3 separate regions of the Homo sapiens genome follow, and regions 2 and 3 are each reported to be linked to region 1. The links are microRNA targets in miRTarBase. Many come from high-throughput screens and were not tested one by one. Region 1 holds a microRNA gene; each other region holds the end of a gene's coding sequence.

The links. Region 1 holds the annotated microRNA hsa-miR-103a-3p (AGCAGCAUUGUACAGGGCUAUGA, at 2,114-2,136, shown strand). A microRNA usually pairs through its seed, bases 2 to 8, with sites in the 3' UTR of a target mRNA and lowers its output. Matches are read on the target gene's strand: a 7mer-m8 pairs with bases 2 to 8, a 7mer-A1 pairs with bases 2 to 7 and ends in A, and an 8mer does both.
Region 2: miRTarBase lists UBFD1 as a target of hsa-miR-103a-3p. Seed matches in the 3' UTR shown: 7mer-m8 at 1,558-1,564.
Region 3: the mRNA of STAMBPL1 is a reported target of hsa-miR-103a-3p. Seed matches in the 3' UTR shown: 7mer-A1 at 2,393-2,399.

What each region holds. Positions count from the first base shown.
Region 1 is chr20:3,915,428-3,918,620 of GRCh38, forward strand. MIR103A2 (microRNA 103a-2) reads left to right here and starts at 2,067; the gene lies at 2,067-2,144. It overlaps PANK2 (pantothenate kinase 2), which reads left to right. Exons shown (of 7, transcript NM_001386393.1): 5 at 1,500-1,623. It overlaps MIR103B2 (microRNA 103b-2), which reads right to left and starts at 2,136; the gene lies at 2,075-2,136.
Region 2 is chr16:23,570,150-23,573,252 of GRCh38, forward strand. UBFD1 (ubiquitin family domain containing 1) reads left to right here. Exons shown (of 7, transcript NM_019116.3): 7 at 331-3,103. The coding sequence ends at 441. Among named protein-coding and RNA genes, the nearest start is that of UBFD1, 14 kb to the left of the region's middle.
Region 3 is chr10:88,922,772-88,925,874 of GRCh38, reverse strand. It overlaps STAMBPL1 (STAM binding protein like 1), which reads right to left. Exons shown (of 11, transcript NM_020799.4): 11 at 2,388-2,707. The coding sequence ends at 2,651. Among named protein-coding and RNA genes, the nearest start is that of ACTA2-AS1, 8.4 kb to the left of the region's middle.

The DNA of each region.
Region 1 (3,193 bases):
AGCTGGGACTACAGTGCGTGCCGCCACACCCAGCTAATTTTTGTATTTTTAGTAGAGACAGGGTTTCACCATATTGTCCAGGATGGTCTCGATCTCTTGACCTCGTGATCCGCCCACCTTGGCCTCCCAAAGTGCTGGGATTACAGGCGTGAGCCACCACGCCCGCCAGTTTTAGCTCTTATATTTAGCTCTTATATTTGATCCATTTTGAGTAAGTTTTTGTGTATGGTGTGAGGTAGAGCTCCAAGTTCATTTCTTTTTGCGTGTGGATATCCAGTTGTCCTAGTACCATTTGTTGAAAAGATGATTCTTTCCCTGTTAAATTCTCTTGGCCCCTTTGTCAAAAATTAGTTGACCATAGATGTTTGGGTTTACTCCTGGACTCTTAAGTTATGTTCCATTGATATATATGTCTGTTTTTATACCAGTACCATACTGCCTTGATACTGTAGCGTTGTATTAAGTTCTGAAGTAAGAAAGTGTGAGTCATCCAACTTGTTCTTTTTTCGAGATTATTTTGGCTATTCTGGGTACCTTGAGAATATGAATTGTAGGGTTAACTTGGCAAGGTCTGTAAATAAGACAACTGGGATTTTAATAGAGATTACATTGAATCTTTTGGCCATCCTAATACAAAGTCTTCTGATCCAAAAAGATGGAATGTCTTCCCATTGATTTAGATCTTTGCTTTCTTTCAGCAGTGTTTTGTAGATTTTATTGTACAGGTGTTAATACTTTTGTTAGATATATCCGTAAGTGTTTTATTCTCTAATGCTATTATAAATGAAATCATTGTCTCCATTTTGAGATCGTTTAGAAGTACAATTGTTTTTCGTATATTGGGGCACATGGCTTTTACTAATAGAAAAATCATATGTATACATGCTTGTTTACTAAGTTTTAGGCACTTGGTCAATGCTGTTGATTTTCTGTTTGTAACATTTGCTCGTTGGTCATCACTTCCTTTTCTGATTGGAAAATTATTGTAGCAGTTCTGCTGAGCATGTACTTTGAAGTACTTTATCTTCTAGGGAAACCTGAAATTCTTAAGCAGCTCACTCTGGGACTCAGCTGTCTGTGCTTTACTCTGCTCTGATAGAGCAGTTTACCAGATGTGCATGTGGCCATCTGAGTGGAACAGCTGTGCAGTTGAGATGAATTGCTGTTAGAGGTGTTGTCCTGGAACTGTCTGGTTGCAGGAGCAATGGTGCCTTCCAGTGCATCTGATGAGATTCTAACTGAATATGTGAATATCTGGTATCCAAGCTAGATTTCAGTAGAAACCGCAGGGAAAGCTGTCTGCTCATTTAGAATGTTGGAGGGCTCTGTTTGAAGTTTGCATTTCTCTTTGAACAGATGCTCCATTGCAAAATAAAAGGTTTGAAGATTTCAACAATGTTGCCCTAAAAGCTAATTTTATTTCAATAAAGTAACATTCAAGTTCTGTTGGGCTTTGTTGCTGTTGGTTTAGCAATGGGATTTTTTTTCCCCCATCACAGCTTTGGAAACATGATGAGCAAGGAGAAGCGAGAGGCTGTCAGTAAAGAGGACCTGGCCAGAGCGACTTTGATCACCATCACCAACAACATTGGCTCAATAGCAAGAATGTGTGCCCTTAATGAAGTAAGGGGACATGGATTTCTTTAATTGCTCTAAGGAAAATACTGAACTTAAGTGGGCCCCATCACGTCTGTTTTCTCAGAACAGTGCCTAAATGTAGTCATTTGGGGTGGGGTTTGTTTTAGCACGAAGTTAAAACTCTTCAAATACAGATTAATCTTCTTTTTTTTTTTTTTAAACTGAAGATAAACATTGCTACTTGTCTAGAGGTAAAATGACATCTTTTGAGGAGAAAGTAGAGGAAGAGTGGAAGGTAGCCAGTGTTCCAGATATTGGGGACTGTTGGGGGTGATGATGGATAACGATGCTGAATGTAGACTCCACACTCACTGCTGAGCTCTAGAGGCCCTAGGGAGGAATCCAGAGGAAGTCACGGAAGCTGGGAGAAGACTGAGCAGGCCGAGGGGTGCCCTCCTTGGCTCCCCCACCTCAGCAGAGCTGCGTCTTTGTGCTTTCAGCTTCTTTACAGTGCTGCCTTGTAGCATTCAGGTCAAGCAGCATTGTACAGGGCTATGAAAGAACCAAGAATGGGCTGCCCTTGGGAAAAGAGGATCTAGGATCCAGTTGGTGCAGCTTATGGCTTGTCCCTGTGTGTATAGTTGTTAAATTATTCTTTTATTTTTATTTTTAAGAAGTTATTCTTTAGATAATAATAGGCATGTAGCTTAAAAGGAAACCTCAAAAGACACAAAGGATTTGTCTCATTTTAAATTAAAAAAATACTGTATCAGCATCAAGTAATTAAACATTTGTTGGAATATCATAACTTCTTTTTTCTTTATTGTATGTTCCCTTTCCTGTGCTTACGTATTTTCAGAAATTTTAGTTGGTGTGCATACCACAATTTGTATTTTATACTTAAATATACATTTCATGGTTGTATATTTATTTGATCAAGTTCTTTTATATCAAATAACAGAGCTTGGCATTTGGTTGCTTGCTCATAACTCGGCAGTAAGCATTTTTAAGCATGAAGTTATTCTTTGGTTGAATTTTATTCTTGATATGGGGCTTAGGAGTGAGATTTCTGGTCTACAGAAATGATCATGCTCATGAATTTTGACATTTATCGTCATGATGCTTTGCACAAGGGCTGCACCAATTTAGATCATCTTTAGCGGTGAATGAGTGGATTAATTTTACTACAACTACTGATGGTGGTGGTGGAATTTCAGTTGCTTTTTTTTGCGAGGTTAATAGGTCTAAAATTTTACTTTTGTTTGATGACTAGTGGTTTGAATTTTTCGCTGCCTGTTATATTGCTTGTATACTTTGCCTGTTTGTGTCACTGTCCTTTTGGATTGGAGTCATACTGTTTTTTTTTGTTTATTTTAACTTATCTGTATAAAACATTGTATTCAAAACTAGTTATTGTTGGTCAGATTTAATACAAATGTTTTTCCTAATCTGTTTTCTTCTCCTGTGACATTATCTAGCATGCTTTGCAGTGGGTCCAGAGTTGTCTGGGGATCAAGTTTAAGTAGCCCTGGACCAACTGGACTAAATTTGATCAGCAGTCAAATTGTTGCTAAGAGCTATGCACATGGTGCTGTATTTGGGGTAGCTTTTATGA
Region 2 (3,103 bases), not on the chromosome of region 1:
AGCTTGCTAGTTTCTCAGGCCCCACCCCAGACCTCCCCAAATTAGAAACTTCACAGGGTTGGAGCCTGCTGATCCATGTTCCAGCAAGCCCCCCGGATGGCTCTGATGACCACTCAGGTTTGAGAACTGCTGCTTTAGGGTTGGCTCAGCTTAACCCTCAGCCTGCCTGTTTTTGTTTTTGGTTGGGAGAATGCTCCCCACGTGCAAAGTTTTGTTTGGTTTTTCTTCCCTTTTTAATTAACTCACATCCCAACCCTCACCCATGTTTGTCCTGCCTGCTTGGTCTCCCGACCTCTGAAGTACCGCTTGGTTTTCCTTTTTCCCTTCCAGGCGTTTCAGTTGGGCCCCACGGAAGCCTCTTACTACTGGGTGTACTGGGTTCCAACTCAATATGTGGATGCAATCAAAGACACTGTGCTGGGGAAATGGCAGTATTTTTGAAAGCACTTTCACCTCTGGCCCAGGAGACTGACCCAAAGTGAAGGACATTGCCGGGAGAGGCCTGCAGCATCCCTGGATTTCAGAGTTCTGGAACTTTGTTCATAAAAAATCTATATTCAATCTGAGGTGATGTGGTGACTGAAGCCAGAGGTGATGTACTTTCACCATTAGCTTAATTTTAACTTAAAATTACCAGTTCCCTTTCTTGCAGTCAGCTTCATACCATTTTTAAAGTCAATACGATGGAAATCAATAAATCTGAATTCCGAACATGTTGTGTGGAATACTCTTAAGTGTGTTTGAGAGTAGATCTGCCAATTATGTTGACAAGGGAATGATCAAAAGCTTTGTTTTTTTTAAAAAAAAAAAAAGCAGTTTCAATTGAAATATTTTCATACATCTTTGGTTGCAAACATTTGGACTGCATTGCAATGAGTTGGGGTGTTTTTTTTTTCCTTTTTTGTATAAAATTGTATGCAAAATGGGGGTGGGTTAGTAAGCCACATATTTCTGTCCATTGATTCAGATTTAATTCTTTCCCTTTTTCATTCTCTCGCTTCCTCAATTTGAGTTTTTGTTTTAAGAACCCAAAGATGTCAGTTCTTCTTTTGGTACCTCATCAACGCTTCCTTTCCTGGGCTCCCTCCCGCCGTGCTGCTGCTGCCTGTGAACGCACGGTGGGAGAGGAAGAGCTGCTCAGTCTTGGGCAAGGAGCTCTCACACTTGCTGTGGTGTTCGTTGAGCAGCAGAGTATCTCCCAGTGACTCCTGTTTAAATGTCTTGCCCTTTGGGCCCCCATCTCCAAGGAGTTCCATTGCTGGTTGGATGATTGTCTGCACCCCTCACTGAGCTTGGCCTAGAGGCCCAGCCTGGCATGGTTGTGCCTGGGCTGTGCCGCTCAACAGCCCCAGCTCCCAAGCAGACAAAGACCTCTTCCAGGAGGAGCCAGGTAGAAGATAGTTATACAGCCATATAGCTGCAGATCCAGATAACCTTCTTTCTTTGGAAGTTTTCAAGAAATTCTTAAGCAGTCCAAGGATGATTTCAATTATGCTTCTCCATTGGGTCCTTCTGCTCATGCATTCAGTTCAAGTGTCCTTTATCCCAGGTTCAGAGATGCTGCCTTTCTGAAGAAGACATCTGACCCTAGCAGGTTGGCCAGTGTTATTGAACAACAAAAATGGGATAAATTGCTTTCATGATTAGCTCACCTTCTTCTGGTTTTAGCCCTTCTGTTCTCTGTACACGTGAACTTCTGTCATCTCCTTCTGGCTTGGTTGCCTCTGAAAGGAGGGAAAGTCTCTTGGTAAATTATCTCTTTTGTGCTGTTTGCTGTTTCTCTGCTGCCGTCTTTGCAGTTCTCCTCTCACTGGTTGCAGGCTTTCATAGTAAGGTTTGGCGAGAAATGTTCCAAACATCACATTTTGGATTCTAGGCTGTCACCCCTCATTCTGTGAAACGTATTAGCATGTGTTCGCCCAAGATGACTATTCCTTGTGAGCCAGTTAATGATGATATTCTACGCCCTTCCCTTCTAAGCTGTAGTTCAGGAATCCAGCCCACATAGACAGACTCTTGCTTTCCATGGTGTAGTCAATGCCAAGTGATGCATCTAGGCAGGAAAATCTACTCTTTGCTTTTTTGGGGGCAATTAGTACATTTGTGAAGTGCAGCATCCAAGAAACAGCCTGTTTTTTCATCCCTTGAGAAAGGAGCAGTCATTGCAGCTTTTCTGTCCTTGTCGGCCTGCAGTTCCTGGGGAAAAGAGTACATCTGAGCTACTTGTCCAAGCCTCTGTCTGCAGGTGACAGGTTTTGGGGGAAATGAGATGCATTAAGTAGAACATCATCTCGGGTCAGACATTGCCCCTTTTGTTTGCCAATGCCCCAGTCCTAGAGACTTGTCCTGACAGTGCCGCACACCTACTTTTGATCTCTCAGAGCAGGTGGCTCCATCCCCAGACTAGCCTGGCTGCTCTCCGAGGCCCCTCCACCTGCTCCCCTTATTGCCCCATTCTTGTGGCTTGCCGGGCCACTTGGCCTCCCTTCTTGCCGGTGACAGCGTTCCATCATCTCCCCGCTCCCCAAGGGCCAACTGCTTCTCACTCAGGCTGGTGTCATTTCAGGAGGACCAAAGCCTGCGTGAGCCTTTTTATTTTCAGTAAAATGGTGCTTTTTTCCTTACTTCGAGATACTATATATAAATAATAATGTAAATGACACCTTTTCGTACGGAGCTGTTTGAGTATTGCTTTACAGAGCTCACTAAATCAGCTTCAACAATCTTGAGCTCTGTGGCTCCTCACCCTGTCTGCATGGAAGACCTTGCTGGACGCTCTCGGGAGAGCAGACATAGCACCAGAAGCCACTGGGAGAAGTGTTTTCGATCCGTGTCTGGGCCACAGTAGTATTCACTGTTTAGTCTTTGAGTTCCGTAAGCAGTCTCTTCATACATTTCTTACAGTCTGGAGTGTACTGACTAAATCTGTGTAAGCAAATTGAAATACTCTTTCTTTTAGGTAGCGTCACAGTGGTTTTTTTTTTCCTCAGGATAATTTCTATACAATTTCCTTACTGTCAGAGGGACCAGATCTTTCCCTCACTGTGGCAGGGGCCGTGCAGGTGGATAAAGGAAGAGCTGGTTTCCGGAGAGTGACTGTAAC
Region 3 (3,103 bases), not on the chromosome of region 1:
ACTGGTGCTCATGCACATGTGTGTGTAGTGGCGTCTCCAGGTTGGTTAACAGGGTCTCTGCCTCACGACCAGTCCATTACTTAGTGATGTGGTCACATTTCTGTTGGTTCTTTCAGACACAGCCCCAGGGCCTCATTCTGCCAGCCAAAGTCAGGCTCTGGTTTGCCGCCTCCAACAGTCCCACTCTGTGAGATCCTGGTTAATTTGGTTTGTACTTGGCAAAAAAAAAAAAAAAAAAAAAAAAAAAAAAACCTACAAAAAAGTGCCAAGAATGTCTCCTTTATTTAGGAAATACAATATACTTTCTTAGTGAAAATGAGTTCTCTTCTAGTTTGCTATTCAGAAGGGACATAATGGTTTTGCATACTCATAGCTTCTCTTTCTAGTCTTTCTGGAAATCTAAGATGCTAAATGTTCTTGGCCCTCAACTGAGTCCTTTCTATCTTTAGGCACCATTCAATGTCCATAGCTTTTTCATCGGACAACTCTCATTTTACATCCTCTTAGTGTATTACTATAATTTTTAATTCTATACAAAGGATCTCACTCATTTCTCAACTATCCATTGTCCCAACAATTATTTTTACTTGAATAAAGAATATAACATTTTCCTTTGATCAAGCATATCAGAATATCATGGTGTGTTTAAGTGTTAAGACACTGAGGACAGCACCACTCAGGAAAAAGTGAGGTGTCTATGGAGCCAGCCTTGCAGAGTTAATCTGCTCTTAACTAGTGGTGGCCATAGACTAAAGTCTCCATGCACAAGGCAAGCCAAGCTCTACTTCTGAAGTCTGATACCTGAGCTCTCCATAGCTAGAAGATTCCATGAAACAGAAACAAGCCACTGACTTGCCCATAGTAGGTGGTTCTGTATAAATGAGAACAGGAACAGAATTCAGGTGACATGATACCAGAATTGAGAACTAGACAAGCAGGGAGGGTTGATGCATTAGTCCATTCTCATGCTACTATAAAGAACTGACCAAGGCTGAGCAATTTCTAAAGGAAAGAGGTTTAATTGACTCACAGTTCTGCATTGCTGGGGAGGCCTCAAGAAACTTAAAATCATTGCGGAAAGGGAAGCAAAACACGTCCTTCTTCACATAATGGCAGGAAGAAGTGCTGAGCAAAAGGGAAAAAGCCCCCTATGAAACCATCAGATATCCTGAGAACTCACTCACTATCATGAGAACAGCATGGAGGTAACCACCCCAATGATTCAATTACCTCCCACCAGGTCCCTCCTACTATGATTTAAGATGAGATTTGGGTGGGGACACAGCCAAACCATATCAGATGTTAACCCATCCAAGCACAGAGTACAGGAAATACCACTCTGGAATATGGAAATCATTGAACTAAGCAGTGGAAGCTAGTACATGGAAACATGAGTTGTTTAGGCAACTCAGATACAATGTCATGAGGAAAGCAAAGGCAGGGAGAGCTGTGGCTGGCACAGAAGACATTGGGAAGACAGAAGGTTTCATAGGATTAGTTTGGCCCTGTTGAAAAGTTGTGGAGATCCAGGGAGAGATGGCTGGAGAAGGAAACTTAAACGTTGAAAAGAAAAAAGAAGAAAGCTAGACTAGAGTAATGTAAGGCCCTAAAGGATGAAAAGGGAGACTAAGAAGTGATCACAAGTTTCTCGATCAAGGAAAGGGCTGTCAGCCCAGGATTTCCCAATGTGCCTGGGAGCAATGTCTTCCAAGATAAAGATTTCACCTGCAGAACTAGTCTTCAGTGTCCCAAAGGACCTATTCTCAAATAACTCAACAATATCACTTCCATTCTGCCCTCTGTGTATCTGCAGCTAAGATTTCTCCACACTGTTTCCATCCTCAGGTTTTTCCTACCAATTCAACTTGCTAACAGAGTTAGCAAGTTGACTAAGAATTATCAGTTATTTCTTATGTCTCATTTCTTCTTCCTATCACCCCTGTTCATTTTCACAGTAACAGGTTTTGTACTTTTATCTGAGTCTTTTTTTAAAAAAAAAATCCTCTCTCAAGCTTCTCTACTTTTAGTCTTCTAAATCAAATTAATGAATTGTCTGCTATCCCAGGCCCTCTGACACCTGATCCCTGAATAGAAGTGTTGTTCTTGTATCTTACACAATGATTCACTGCAGAGATATCTCTCTGAGCCTGGGATTTCATGACACTGAAAACACAGAACAAGCTTTATCAATGGCAGCCATATTTCATCTACACATGGAAGCTGTTCACCTACCTCAGGGGAAGGTTTCAGAAACAGATGGTCTGCTTTGGAGACTATATACACTCAGAATTTCTTATTTGGAATTACATTTTACATGAATAAAAAATATAGCAAATCATCTAAAGCTCTAAAAATGTATGCAGAGACCTCTATAAATACAAGACATGTTGTTTGCAGCACAATTTATTATCTGGCCATAGTATTTGGGTACATTATCAGGTACCGATTTAACACCATGTAACCTCTCTTGACACAGAGCAACCCAAAAAGAAAACTTTAAAATGTGCAACAGCAATAAATATCAAGCTTTGTCATCTAAAATGTATAAATATAAAATATCAGTCATTTCTGGAAACATCTTAAGAAAATCCGGCAACCACATGTCCATGAGTAGGTGTCTGATGTTGACGGTGCTTACATTCAGAACATATCACCTCAGATCCAACACAATTATTTTTATGTCTTTTACCAACACATGTTTGCATATCTAGGAAAGAAAAAATTGGTTTTACCATATGTTTGATTTCACCATAATGTTTACCATATGATTTTCTTTAGGGAGGAAGTATAGATTTCCTAATTTTAATTTGTTCCTGATTTTTAAAATATTTCCAATCAGAACAAATACAATCACATTTATTCATTTTCAACAACAACAAAAATATTTACAGGGGTTGCCAAATAATTTTCATTTTAAGTAAATTCTAACGTCAATATAATGTTCTCTGATGTTATAGCCACAGAACCTCCAAGAAAATTAGGAAAAAAAAAGGCGTAGTCAAATGTTTCTTTTGGACTATGCAAAGGTAATCAAGAAGTATGATCATAGTTTCCATCAATTGCTATGAAAAAACTAATTTGGCCATATCAAGCAGAAAGAATT